Linked DNA regions of Homo sapiens. The protein of the gene in region 1 interacts with the protein of each later gene in a pairwise test. Each region holds a gene or a part of one and is shown on either strand. Other genes may lie near its edges.

Evidence for each region. Proteins that work in one complex are often made in the same cells at the same time.
Region 2: the proteins of PRKAA2 (region 1) and NRBF2 interact in binary tests that used the Homo sapiens proteins (3 or more experiments, as listed by UniProt).
Region 3: the proteins of PRKAA2 (region 1) and RBPMS interact in binary tests that used the Homo sapiens proteins (3 or more experiments, as listed by UniProt).

The regions. Positions count from the first base shown.
Region 1 is NC_000001.11:56,711,304-56,715,872, forward strand, and holds the end of PRKAA2 (5'-AMP-activated protein kinase catalytic subunit alpha-2), read left to right. Parts: 3' UTR 1-4,032; downstream 4,033-4,569. UniProt on the Homo sapiens protein: Catalytic subunit of AMP-activated protein kinase (AMPK), an energy sensor protein kinase that plays a key role in regulating cellular energy metabolism.
Region 2 is NC_000010.11:63,136,281-63,143,327, forward strand, and holds part of NRBF2 (nuclear receptor-binding factor 2), read left to right. Parts: intron 1-7,047. UniProt on the Homo sapiens protein: May modulate transcriptional activation by target nuclear receptors. Can act as transcriptional activator (in vitro). Involved in starvation-induced autophagy probably by its association with PI3K complex I (PI3KC3-C1).
Region 3 is NC_000008.11:30,569,494-30,572,756, reverse strand, and holds the end of RBPMS (RNA-binding protein with multiple splicing), read right to left. Parts: intron 2,121-3,263; coding exon of another isoform or gene 2,027-2,120; 3' UTR 501-2,026; downstream 1-500.

The DNA of each region.
Region 1 (4,569 bases):
AAAAATCATAAGCAACTATTGTAGATTTTTGATCTGTTTGGATTTATCTGTAGCATTGAATAATGTGCAGTGTACTGAGTTAATGTAGGCACCTCACTTTGGATTTATAAAATGTAAAAACCTGGAACATGCCTGCCACAGACACCACTTTGTCTATTCACCGGGTACTAATTTACATCCTATTAATGGTTGTAAAAGCTGAGTGTCTAAATGCTAGACATGTTCACAATTTTGTCTGTTTTTGTTTATTTGTTTTTAAGACCCAAACCTTTTCAATCTTGCATTTATTTACTTGGTTCTCCTGTGTCACCCTGTGGCTTTTTAAATAGGGAATGTAATTTATTTTAATAGTAGTTCTCAAAGACTCTATTAAAAACTCTGGACGAGGGATATGTGCAATCTGTTGGTAAGTCACATCCTATGTTTGGCCTCATTTTTATAACTCCTAAAATGAGAAAGGTAGATTTTAACACTTCTAAGGTACCTTTGAGCTTTAAAGTTCTTTTCTGCTTTTCCATATGATTTGTGTTAGTGTTCACTTTTTATATATTTAGAGTTTTTATATGAGTGTGAATGTTTCTGTTTTGATTTGGTGAGGCATGTCAGAGGTATATACTTGAATATTTTTCTAAATACAGCTGCTGGAGGAATGCAAATGGCAAAAATCATCCAGAAAACCAAACACGGTGAAACATCACATCCATTTGGCATGAAGCAAAGCATTACAAATTTGGAGTGATGAAAGTGTTCCATATATTTTTTATAGTGATTTTTCGATCTAGAGACCCTTCATATTGTTTACTTACTATTACGATAACTTTGAGAGGTAACCAGAGAAAGCATTTTTGCCATTTCCAGATGAGGAAGCAGGACCAGAAAGCTCTTCATAAAGCTTTAACACCATACAAGTATCCAGCAGTGATCAATTGCTCTTTATAGGAAACCACCTTTCCTCTGGGGAAGAACAGTCTGAATTAATAAAACATCAGAGTGGTTGAGTAGTAAAAATAAACACAGATGTATTGCTTTCAAGTCTTAGAGTGACATAAAGTAGTCTTAAATAAATAGTTCTTAGTTTATTTTAAGCAGTTGATTGTACTAACGAGATGTAATTATCTGAAGTATTTATGATTAGCATATTGGTTTTTATAAGTATTTCTGAGTTATTGAGGGTGCTTAAAAATGCTGAAGAAACTTTAAAACATGATTCTTCTTATAATTTTATGTGATTCTTATAGCACAATCATTTTTGAAAAAGGAAAACTAGGCTGGGTGTAGTGGCTCATGCCTATAATCCCAGCACTTTGGGAGGCCAAAGTGGGTGGATCACCCGAGTTCAGGAGTTCGAGACCAGTCTGGCCAACATGGTGAAACCTCGTCTCTACTAAAAATACCAAAATTATCCGGTGTGGTGACAGGCTGCTTGTAATCCCAGCTACTCGGGAGGCTGAGGCACGGGAATCTCTTGAACCTGGGAGGCAGAGATTGCAATAAGCCAAGATCATGCCACTGCATGCCAGCCTGGGTGACAGCACAAGACTGTCTCAAAAAAAAACAAAAAAAGGAAAAAGAAAACTAGCCCCAGTCCCTGTCTAAATTGTTATAGTTTTTGACTATTATCTGAATTAGTCTTATCCAAATTTCATATGCAGATTGATTTTTCATTTTGTATGTATATTACATGATATAACTATTTTCATAGAATATATTTCTAATTTACAAACACTGAATTATTAGCTTGATAGAGTTTCTCCCAAACCTTATAAAACTTTGAAATGTACTTATGTTTGAGCTTTAAAAATTATAAAAACTTCATTTAAACAAGTTGCTGGCATCATTACTAGCCTTTCCACCTATAATTATGATGCATTTGATGCCACTGAACAGTAATAGCACAAAGAACAGGTCACACAGTCTAGACTGGATTGAGTTTTAATTAAACTTCTTCATCCATAGCCTGATAAGAATCAGGCTGGGTCTAGAAGAGTTATCAGACTGTAGGCCTGTATTAATTTTGCAAGCTAATGTTAATGTTTACTGCCAGCCTTGCATAGCAATGCCAGTTTGCAGTTGTGACTATGATGTGACTTTTGGTAAAAATGGTTTATATCTAAAGTAGTTTAGATTTTATGGAAGTGGCTCTTGATTGTTTGGACAAGCAGGGTAGGTAAATTTCAATTACGTTTGAAGTGTAATTAAATCCTAGAATAGAGCACTCTCCAGAAAAAAAAATGAAAAAAGAATTTGGAGAATATCCTGGCATGAAAACTTTTTTGAATAATACGTAGAATTTTGACAAGGTTCATACAGTGCATACAGTGTGACCTTTTCTGAGGTGGGCAGGGAGGGTTGCTACGTTGTGTTGATTTAAAATTTCAAGGAGGAACAAAAACATTCTAGCCAAGGAGAATTGCATTGTTATTTTTTTTTCTACTAATTTAAACGTGCATTTTTCACAGTTACACATTTAAGTTTTGCTACCAAAAATGGCCATTTTTCTAGACAGATAACATTTTCCTAAAGTGGAAGAGAGATCCACTGTTCTAAAAAAAAAAAAAAAAAAAAACACTAAATTGTGCCTTCTCCCTTAAATTATAAGAAGAGTAATAGTAAAAACTTGTTTAAACTATATTTTCTTTTTTTCTAATCCCTCTCAGTTCTCCTTAGATCTGCCTCCTACAAATGATCATGTTGTTTGCATCTGCCTGATTGAGTTCCCTTGGTCAAACCTCTCCCTATCACTATCAGAAGTTGTTCACTAAATGTATTTTCCTATTTCTTTCATGTTGATTGACTTTATAAGTCACCTTGGTAAACATAACATTTGGCTACCTTCTCATGCTTTATAAATGAATTTGATGAATGGCAGTTTTTATATTTTAACCCTTTAAAAAGTTTGTCAAGGAAACAACTCAGAGCTAAGAACAAAATCTAACTTGGAATCAGTTTCTTCCTTTGGCTGCTGAAGCAGCAGCAAGTCACGTAACCTCATTTAGTTTTTTGATTTACAAAATGTGGATAATAACCTACCTCACAGATGTGTGTGAGCAACTGTTTGAAAGCCCTTGTTTAAATACAGGGTTTATATCCCCACATTCAATGTAAATTCCTTTTTTTAAAAAAAATAAGTATCTTTGATACTGATAGGATGAGTATCTTGATTTTTAGGTAAGATCACAGTTTCACAAATTGTGGTGTTGTTAGGTGACATTTAATATTTCTTGAGACCTCAAGTATTCAAATATCAAACTTGTCCTGTGTTGTAACAAATATTCAGAATCTCTTAAAATGTTGGCTGAAGCTGCCTTAATGTACCAAAATACAGCTCTCAAGACTGTTCACAAATATCTGTGGTTGTACAATGTTTTGAACATTTAATGTAAAGTTGTTGTAGAACTGTGAACTCTAAGGATAGTATCTTTATTGTTTTAGGAAGAATGGTTGTGTTCTTTGTCATGTATGCTTAAATATACAGTGGATTTTGAATGCAACAAATAAAACTGAAAACAGCCATTTGGTTGTGTCATGACAATCATAATATAGGATATAATATTTACTTTTTTTCAAAAACATCCTGCATTCATTCATTCTTAGCATACCTTTGAAAAAGAAAAAAAAATCCATAGGTTGATACATTGACCCATTGAAGTACTTCATTACGTATTTATTGAAAATTTTTTTTAATTGTTGAAATTGGGACCACTTTTTATAATTGGTTTCAAGAAAAAAAAATGAACAGACTTCCAGTGCTTTTCTGTTCAAATAAACTCCGATTCAAATTTCAGTTTTGTTTGTTATATACTTTTTGTGAGTGTTAAATGATATGGGAAGGATTTGTCTTTCATTAACCATATGGAAAAGATGTCTTCCTGAATTACATAGCATTTCATAGTTACAGATTCTTCCTAATTAATGTTTGCACCATATGAAACTCATAGGTAACAAACACAAAGGAGAAAAGCAGCCTGTCTGATTGCTTATAAGCTTTTTTCACAAAATCAAATTAAAAGTCTCTGATTCATTTGAAAGCTATTTTTGTTTCTGCTCCATCATTATGCTGGTATTCTGCACACCAACTAATAGTTACAGGAAAGTTGTTAGTGGAAAAGATTGCCTATACTCATTGGTGATTTCACACCATCTTTTTTCATTTTTGTCATCTTAGTTGTACATTATAGTTTTTAACTTGAGTTATTGCATTGGTTTTCTACTGTTGCTGTAACAAATTACTACAAACTTAACGACTTAAAATACAAATTATTTTATTGTTCTATATGTTAGAAACCCAGCAGGCTTAGCTGGTTTTTCTGCCTCAAGTCACACAAGCTGAAAACCAAAGCATTGATAGGGCTGGGCTGTGGAGGAGAATCTGTTTCCAGTTGCATTGAGTTGTTGGCAGAATTTCATTCCATGGTGCTGTAGGATTGAGGTCCCTGTTGCCTTTTTGGCTGTTGGCTAGGAATCATTTAAAGCTTCTAGAGGCCATCATCCCTTGGCCCTTGGCTCCCTTCATCTTCAAAACCAGCAACAAGTGGCTTATGGGTTGGATCTCTTCTTCCTTCTCTTCAA
Region 2 (7,047 bases), on another chromosome or scaffold:
ACCACCCTGCCCGGCTATGAAAATTCTGACATTCTTTTATGTCAGTGAACACCTAACTTAGTATCTAGTTGACTCAAGATGAGAGTTCTCAATGCTATAATTTGAATGTCTTTGAAAATTCCACTAGTATTATACAAGCTTTTTCTTTTTCTATACTCAGAGAGTTACTAATGCAATAAGCTTTGTCAAATGACGTCGTAGTGTAGTCCAAATTCATTGTATAAGGACTTATCACAGTACATGGATTTGTAATCATGTGTCCTCAGAGCATCCTCGGAACTTAGTAAGGTGTGTTTTCCAGTTTTACAGATAAATAAGCCTAAGCTGAGAGAATTAGGTAATTACTTAGGTCAGTAACTTAAATACATTATGAATCACGAGTTATTTTGATATCAAGACCTCTTTCTAGCAATGCTGCCATATTGTACTCATCATGTTCATTTCAGTATGGTTCTCATCTATATTGAACTGTAGATTCTGTGTTAGCATTTATTACCTCTGCTCCAGTATTGATTCTTTTATGTTAGGTTTGGCAGTAAGGGCCTTAGAAATTCCTCACAGTGAATTTTTAAGATCTGGAAGAGACTAGTTTGAAATATTCATTTTAATATGTACCACAGAGGTAATGGATTCTAATTATCTGGTTATTGAAGTTTGTCAAAAGAAAAATTGTACTTCCACTGAAGAAAAAAATAGCTAGTCTTTGCACTCTGAATAACTTTGTTTCATTAGGGTTTTTTGGTCAATTTTTCTTTAAGAGACAGGGTCTTACTCTGTTGCCCACACTCAAGGGATCCTCCTGCCTGAGCCCTCCACAATAGCTGGGACTACAGGTTTGCACCACCATGCCCAGCTAATTTTTTCAAAAACTTTTTGTGGAGATGGGGTCTTGCTGTGTTGCCCAAGCTGGTCTTGAACTCCTGGCCTCAAGCAATCTTCCTGTCTCAGCCTCCCAAAGTGTTGGGATTACAGGCATGTGCCACTGTGCCCAGCCTGTCAGTTTTAAATATGGAAAAATTATAACTTATAAAATTAGTGTATATTTAGATATTTCTTTCCGTACACATTTTGTCAGTGTGACTACTGGTAACAAATGTCAAAACTCTTGTGAGATAATTTCTAGTTCTTTGGTTTGTTTGCTGCTGATTTGGAAAGTGATGTCAGATCTTAATTTATATGTGGCTGTTGCTCATGTTTTGCTTACCTCTGCTGCAAAGGGCAGGGTCCATGTGACTGCCTGGCCACAATCGTTTTCTATGTGTTTAGCCCTTAAGAGTGCTGAGAATGTTTGTTGAGTAACAGCTTCCCTCCAGAGTGGTCAGTTCTCACATCACATGAGGTAGTTAATGAAGCCTCTTACTTTCCAGCTTCTGTAAGAAAAGTAGTCAGATATCATGGTCCAAGGAATGGCCTTATGCATACCTGGAGTCCTTATACCTATCCCATTTTAATTATATTGGCTTTAAAATCTTCAAGGTAAAAAGAGGCAATTTGAACCCCTTCTTTGTTGCCCTGAAAAATTCCAAGGAAAATTTCTTTGTCACAAGCTGAGCTAGGCATAATGAAAGCACTCTGGAAAAAGGAGGTAGAGAGTACTAAGAGATATCCAGCAATTATTGCTAAGTGGTAGGATTGGCATCGGGCACGTTATGTATATTTTTTATCTTTTCCTCTTAATAGCTAAATATGAGATATTCCCCCTATTTTAAAGATGAAGACTTTGAAATGCAGGGTAAGTGGTGATAGTAGGATATGAAGGCAAGATTGGGCTGGGCACAGTGGCTCATGCCTGTAATCCCAGCACTTTGGGAGACTGAGGTGGGTAGGTCACCGAGACCAGCCTGGCCAACAAGATGAAACCCTGTCTGTACTAAAAACAAAAATTAGCCAGGTGTGGTGGTGGGTGCCTGTAATCCCAGCTACTTGGGAGGCTGAGGCAGGAGAATCGCTTGAATCCAGGAGGTGGAGGTTGCAGTGAGCCAAGGTCACGCCCTTGCACTCCAGCCTGGGTGACAGAGTGAAACTCCGTATCAAAAAACAAAACAAAACAAAAATTAGCCAGGTGTGGTGGCACATGCCTATAATCCCAGCTACTTGGGAAGCTGAGACAGGAGAATCGCTTGAACCTGGGAGGTGAAGATAGTGGTAAGCCAAGCTCACGCCACTGCACTGCAGCCTGAGCGACTGAGCGAGACCTTGTCGCAAAAAAAAAAAAAAAAATTGGGAGGCCAAGGCGGGCAGATCACGAGGTCAGGAGATCGAGACCATTCTAGCTAACACGGTGAAACCCCGTCTCTACTAAAAATACAAAAAATTAGCCAGGTGCAGTGGCGGGCGCCTGTAGTCCCAGGTACTCGGGAGGCTGAGGCAGGAGAATGGCCTGAACCCGGGAGGCAGAGCTTGCAGTGAGCCAAGATCGCACCACTGCACTCCAGCCTGGGCGACAGAGCGAGACTCTGTCTCAAAAAAAAAAAAAAAGTCTTTCCTGGAATTCTCCAACACTTGAGCGCTTATCTTCAGTATAATTGCGTTATATTACTTAGTCAATTCAGTGCTTATTGATTTGAGATAACTGTTTGCTACTTGTTTGTAGGAGACGCACATTGATTGGGAAAGGGGGAGTGAGTGAGGTTTCTCTTTCAACTGAAGACCCTACCATAAGGTCAGGTGTATGTTAGATTTTCCTCTGCTGCCTTTTCAGTGCTGTGTTCATATGGTGTTCCTTTTCTTTTTTTCTTTTTCGTTTTGAGACAGAGTATCACTCTGTTGCCCAGGCTGGAGTGCAATGGCGTAATCTCAGCTCACCACAACCTCCGCCTCCGGGGTTCAAGCGATTCTCCTGCCTCAGCCTTCCTTGTAGCTGGGACCACAGGCGCGTGCCATCATGCCTGGCTAATTTTTGTATTTTTAGCGTAGATGGGGTTTCTCCACGTTGGTCTGGCTGGTCTCGAACTCTTGCCCTCGTGATCTGCCCACCTTGGCCTCCCAAACCAAAGTGCCTGGATTACAGGCGTGAGCCACCACGCCTGGCCTGGTGTTCCTTTTCTTTTCATCTTTACTTAACAGCTTTCCCCAAGGACACAGAAAAAAATAATAGAAAGTAATACTGTTTTCTTTTGGGAAAGAGGGTAGTATTGAACATGTATTTTTGAAGCAGTTAGCATGTGGAAGTAAAAGGTACTTGTCAGTGATGGCAGTCACTTAGTAACCTAGTTGTTGTAGTTAGGATTTTTGTTGGTTGTAGTTGATGAAAACCCACTTGAAATTAGCTTAAGCCAAAAGAGATAATTTACTGGACTCCAAAGAAAGGTGCAGGAAGGGCAGGGGTATAATGTAGCTTGGTTTATGACCGTATAGAGCCTGTCAGTCCGACTTAATCAGACTCTCCCTCTCTTTTTTTGCCTTTTCAGGCTTGTCTGCTTCACTCCTCCTTTCTGCAGACCTATATTTCCACCTGGCTAGCCTCTGAATGTCACATTAATTAGACTTTCTTCATATTGTCTGCTCCTAAGTTTGAAAATCTGGAGAAGGGATTCTTTAGGTATCCAGACGACAAGGTAATACAACAATGTGGGCCTGGTATGGTAGCTCACACCTGTAATCCTAGCACTTTGAGAGGCCGAGGCAGGTGGACTGCTTGAGCCCGGGAGTTCAAGACCAGCCTAGGCAACATAGTGAAAACCGGTCTCTACCAAAAGAAAAAAAAAAATAGCTGAGCATGGTGGCACATGTCTGTGGTTCCAGCTACTTGAGAGGCTGAGATAGGAGGATCACTTGAGCCCAGGAGGTTGTGGCTGCAGTGAGCCGTTATCATGCCACTGCATTCCAGCCTCTGGGTGACAGAATGAGACCCCATCTCAAAAAAAACAGCAAGGAAATCATAAGGAAGAGAAAATATAGTTCTATACTATAGTTATCAATACCATAAGTTTATGTCAGCTGTTTACAAAACGAATCATCTGTCAGAAATGATGGGCAACCACAGCTGTAGACCTCAATCTAACGTAACCCATCAAGCAATTAAAAAAGAATGTGGGAAGTCCCACAGAATCATATGGATTGCCTAGGAAGTACACAGAGGTGGGACTGCTTTATTGTGAATTTCTTTGAATTACCAGAGAAACATGTTTATGGACTTACTACCCTTTTCTTTTTGAGACAGTATCTTCCTCTGTCCCACAGACTAGAGTGCAGTGGCGTAATCACGGCTCACCGTAGCCTCAACCTCCTGAGCTTCTGATCCTCCTACCAGTCCCTCCTGTAGCTGGGACTACAGGTGTGCACCACTACACCCAGCTAATTTTTCTATTTTTTGTAGAGATGGGGTCTCACTATGTTGCCTATGCTGGTCTCAAGCAGCCCTCCCACCTCGGCCTCACAGAGCGCTGGGATTATAGGCATGAACCTCCGTGCCCAGCCTATTACTTTTTTTTTTTTTGAGATGGAGTCTCACTCTGTCACCCAGGCTGGAGTGCAGTGGCGCAATCTCGGCTCACCACAACCTCTGCCTCCCAGGTTCAAGCGATTCTCCTGCCTCAGCCTCCCGAGTAGCTGGGACTACAGGTGGGCGCCACCATGTCTGGCTAATTTTTGTATTTTTTGTAGACATGAAGTTTCACTATGTTGGCCAGGCTGGTCTCAAACTCCTGACCTCGTGATCTGCCTGCCTCGGCCTCCCAAAGTGCTGGGATTATAGACGTGAGCCTCCGCTCCTGGCCTCAGCCTAGTGCTTTTAATGGCTGTGATTCTACCAAGAACAGTATTTAAAGAGAGACTAGTTTTAATATGTGTAAACTGTAAAAGTTGTTTTAAAAATGAGAAGCACCACCAAGATAGGTTTTCTGTAAAATCTTCAGTTTATAAAAAATGCAATTTAGCTGGGCATGGTGGCTCATGCCTATAATTCCAGCACTTTGGGTGAGTGAGGGAGGAAGATTGCTTGAGCCCAGGAGTTTGAGACCAGCCTGGGCAAGATATCAAGACCCCACCTCTACAAAAAATAAAAGTTAGCTGGATGTGGTGCCGTGTGACTGTATTTCCAGCTACTCAGGAGGCTGAGGTGGCAGGATTGCTGGAGCCCAGGATATTGAGGCTGCAGTGAGCTATGATTGCACCACTCCACTCCAGCCTGGGCAACAGAGCAAAACCCTGTCTCAAAAGTAATTAAGATGAAAATTTTTTTAAAATGCAATTCAGTCTAGACCCAACTATATTGTCAACTTCTTGATGGCAGGTACTTCCATCACTTCTATTGTCTTTTGTAGTACTTAACGAGGGCTATATCGAGTATGTACCAGTACCAGGCACCATTCTAAGCACTGTGATGTTTCAACTAGTTTAATTTTCACAAACTCTTTTGTTTTTGGTGCCATCAAATTTACATAAGCAGACAATAACTTTCATTTTAGAGATGAGAAAACTGAGGCAGATAATTGGGAAAGCCGGGCTTATGTGTCTCATATGTGGTCAAACTGAGATTTGAACGTTGGCAGTCGAGCTCTATAACGAGTTTGCTGTGTGTCTGATAAGAACATAGTAGGAAATGTACTTAAAATACGAAATTTGATTGCTCTGGTGCCAAATAACCTAGAGGAGATGGTGTGTTTTTGTTGAGCTCAGTAATAATCTGAAACTATAATGAGATTTAACTCCTAAATTGGCAGACTGGTTAGAGATTGGACTCTACATGGGGATGTTTTAAGGGAGCTGGGAGAGCCATGAGGACCTGCTCTCACTGTTTGAGAACTTTTTATTTTTTTGGTGTTCAATTAAGAATTTATTCCGTCATCACAGAGTTTGAAGTTTAATTATGGAGCTACATAAATATCCATACTAGAAGAAAGTGATTGAAATCATCAGCGACACACACAGATAGAAAAAAGGTGTTAGAATGAAGTAACCTGAAATAGCATCTCATCCCTGCTTCTTAGAGTGTATCCATAAGCCAGCAACTTTGGCTTTACCTGGGTGGAATCTCAAGCCGTACTCCAAACCTCCTGAATCAGAACCTTTGTTTTTTTTGTTTTTTTTGTTTTTTTTTGAGATGGAGTTTCACTCTTGTTGCCCAGGCTGGAGTGCAATGGCACGATCTCAGCTCACTGCAACCTCTGCCGCCCTGGTCCAAGCAATTCTCCTGCCTCGTCTTCTCAAAGTGCTGGGCTTACAGGTGTGAGCCACCATGCCCGGCCTTTTAGAATCTGTATTTTAACCAGGTGATTTGTATTTTCATTAAAACCTAGAGCCTTATTGCTTATTGATTTAATACCACTTGCTTTAATAGTATCAAAACATGTTCATTAGAGAAATTAGGTTAATCATAACTGCTTGTGCATACTAGCTTTCTTCATCATGTACATTCTTTTCCCAAAATACCTGTATAATTTGTGGGTACTAGAAAATGCTCATGTGTTCAGAATGTATTTTTTGCTCAGTCCAAGTCTCCAGGTTAAAATTCATCCATTATTTTAAGCCCCCAGTCATTTCTTTTCTTTCTTTCTTTCTTTTTTTTTTTTTTTTTTTTGAGGCTGTCTTGCTCTCTTGCCCAGGCTAGAGTGCAGTAGCACGATCTCAGCTCACTGCAACCTCCGCCTTCCAGGTTCAAGCAATTCTTGTACCTCAGCCACCTGAGTAGCTGGGATTACAGGCATGTGCCACCATGCCTGGCTAATTTTTGTACTTTTAGTTGAGATGGTGTTTCACCATATTGGCCAGGCTGGTCTTAAACTCCTGGCCTTGAGTGATCTGCCTGCCTCAGCCTCCCAAAGTGCTGGGATTACAGGCATGAGCCACTGCGCCCAGCCTACCCAGTCATTTCTTGTGACCTATTGTTGTTCCCAGGCATATGTTAAGACTTAGAGGAAAGTTTGATTACTATTTAAAAAATAAAAAGTATCTGAAATCCTGTAATTGAAAGGCACGAATCTTGTCTTTAAGATTGTTGCTTCTTTCCTACAAAAATAGAAGTGGGGAAAAGGCAAACAGCAAGGCATTGCTGGAAGTGCTGTTTTCTACTTTTGTCTTCACCTGTGTTTTATACTGAGTATGATT
Region 3 (3,263 bases), on another chromosome or scaffold:
AGGACCACAGGTGCTAGTACTCCTGGCTAATGTTAAAATTGAGGGTCTTGCTGTGTTGTCCAGGCTGGTCTCAAACTCCTGGGATCAAGCAAGCCTCCTGCCTCAGTTTCCCAGTGTTGGGATTACAGGTGTGAGCCACCATGCCTGGCGTAAGATATATTTAAGTCAGCAGAAAACCCAAGTGACATTTTAATATAATTCAGATAATCCTGAGTCAAGCTTTGTAGGCTGAGGTAGATGAGGGGCCTCCCTTGAGGTCCCTCTGCCTCTGGTGTCATTGTGGGTCACCAGCCACTGTGGTTGTGCGTTTGCAGACTTACTCTCTGGCTTTCCCCGGTATCTGCTTCCTCCTTTAATCTCTTTGTGCCTAAGCTCAATGGCCAATGCTTGCTTAGCTCTGCCGAAGCCTGACAATGGGAATGAAATCTGCTGGCGTCTTGTCTGCAGTGTGGGATACATGTAGTTGGTCTTGCTAAAAAAGAATTTGTCAAGCAATGGTGTGACAGCTGGAATAAGCACTTTATTTTTTAAAAATGACAATAGAAAAGTACCTTTAAACAGTTATAAAAGCATAATAGACTGCAGAAGTGGCTATTTTCCTTAGGAGTACAGTCATCTCACCAAGAGCCGATTGGCACTGAGGGCATAAGCAGGTCCTTGAACACCAAAGTGGATCCGTCACAAGTCCTTGAGCTAACTGCCTTTTCCCCTTATTTACGGTAAGAAAGAGCCCCTCACTCCTGGCCTTGGTTTTTTGTGTTGACCTTTAAAAGCTTCTTGACATCTTTATATTTCTAATGGAAAATAACAAAACAAAAACCCAAACCAACCAGGTAATCATGACATTGAAATTTTCAACATAAGCCGAGCGGATCAATAGGAAAGACTGTGTTTGGCAGCTGAATTTAGGTCAGTGTGGTTTTACAAAAATGGCTTCTGTACAAGGGGAGAGGTTGAGCTGTCATGAACTCTGGAGATGTGTCAACTGACAACACCAGACTGACTTTGGCTTTGACGAAGTCTGAATAGAATTGGTTCCAAATGCCCACTGCCTCCGTCTCCTGTGGGGTGTGGCAGGACGTCTCACAGTGAGCACACGCCATTTGGGAGCTCATGGTATGTGGTCGGTTTGGCCCAGTGCTGCCAAGAGTTGGCAACACCAGCTCAGTTCAGCCGGTGTTTTGCAAACAAACATCACTTTGGAGATACAGACATGAGCTGCCCACTGCAGCCAGGTGGGCTGGGCACAGCCAACCCCTTCAAGGGCCAGGGCTGGCCTCCCAAGCCAAGGTTTTCCCTTACCAGTGAGGCAGGCTCTGCACTTACACTGCGGGAGCAGGGATGCGGGGCTGGCTTGTGGAAGGTAGGTTAGGCATCGAGTGGCTACACATACAGGAGAGTGGAAACATAAAACTGTACAAAGTCACACTTGGCACACAGTTGATATAGTCACAGCTGGAGCTACTAGGGCTTTCTAAGGGCACACTCAGCAGTTCTTACCAATGATGTTTTCTTGCCCAGTTGTGAATAAGCCATAGGTAGAAGCTCCTGGAGGCTTCTGGTTGATTGTCTTGCAGGGCTGTCCTACTAGAACTGGGATCCTAGACCTAACACTGCAAATAACAGTTCTGTTTCTAACATCTAACACCATGCTACTAATTTACCCTGGACTCCGGCCAGGCACAGATTTCTATATATTCACAATACAATTCAGGATATTTTGATAATATTTGGAAACATGCCTCAAACATGCAACTTACTTCAGAGGAAAAAAATAGATATTTTTAATTACAAGCATTCAAAAGTCAAGAACAAAAACTGTGATCCAAACCAGTGTAAGATCGTCCATCCCAGCATACTTAAAATGTTTGGTATAAAAATACTCACTTTTCTTGGTTTTATTGTTGACTTCTCTTACGTTTCGTTTGAAAATATCTCCAAACTGTACAGAAATTTCAGACCATGCATTCACAAATAATACGCTATTTCTTACAATTATACAGTGTAAAAGAGTAAAACATTTTTATTAATTATATTTTTTTCTTCGAGAAAAACAGATGTGTGATAGAGGCTGTGACAAAGTCTTGAAGGGATCAAAACTGGGCAAGGGTTTTTCAAGCCTGAAACAGAAAGAAAACATGTTAGGAGAGCAGGTGTCAACCCCTCCCTAGTTGCGATGGCTTTGTCCTGGAGATGCTGTGGATGGGAGAACGGATGGGTTAGATGACAGTGTGCGGATGTGTGTATAGAACATATTTGCTGACCACATGTGTCAGTGGTCTCACCTTGATTAGAAACATGGGGCAAGTCCTTGGCTCCCGCTCACAAACCCCTACCCTGGCCCAGAGGTTTTCTTGAAACACATCTCAGCTATATTGTATTATTCAGTCACTCCTTTTCCTGCCATCTTACCAGCATGTCACACACGTTTGAGAAGTTGTAGAAAAGGTGTATGCAGAAGGCAATCAATCAGCTCAGCATACACTAGAATTTTGTACAGGGAGATGCTTATTTGTGTGCCGAAAGAGGCCATAAACAGATAATTATTGATAACCTATTTAAATGTCCCAAGTTAGATTTTGTCCCAAGTTAGATTTGGGAAAATGTGTTTTAAAAAGTCCTGAAATGAGAATATTTAGGTGACCACTGAAACATAGCGTACGGGATGAGCTTGTAAATGTTCACACCAAATCTGTCCAATTTGTATCTGACCTGTGACTTTTCACTGCCCAGTTTTTGGACGACAGTATGAGTGGGTAGCGGGTAACGGCCGGCGGAGCAGGGGCAAGCCAGGCAGAGCTTTCCACAGTGGGCCCTGGACACCCTGGACCTTCTCTGTGACGGGCGACTAATACTTGCCTGTCTCTTTAGGTTGTGGCAAATAAATAATGACATTAGTTCTAGCACATCCGCTTAAGTATGCTTACTGTAGACAGCCCTCAAGGCAGCCAAATCCAGACTCATCCCTGTGCACCCCTGGCCTGTCCCTGCCCTTTACACCGACCTCATTTCCTGTCCTCTTGGCTCATCTGCTCCTTCCACTCCACCATCACCATCTTAGGGCCACCTGTGCAGAAGTGTGCTTCTACCTCGAATCTTCATCTACTTTGCTTTGGGCAGCATGACAACAACATTCCTAAATCACTCTCCACCCCTGCTCATCTTTCCAGTGGCTTCCAAATCCCTAACACATCCTTCAAGGCCTTCAAAAGCCTGGCCGCAGTCTACTTTCAGCAGAGCGTGCCGTGCCTGTTCTTACTTCC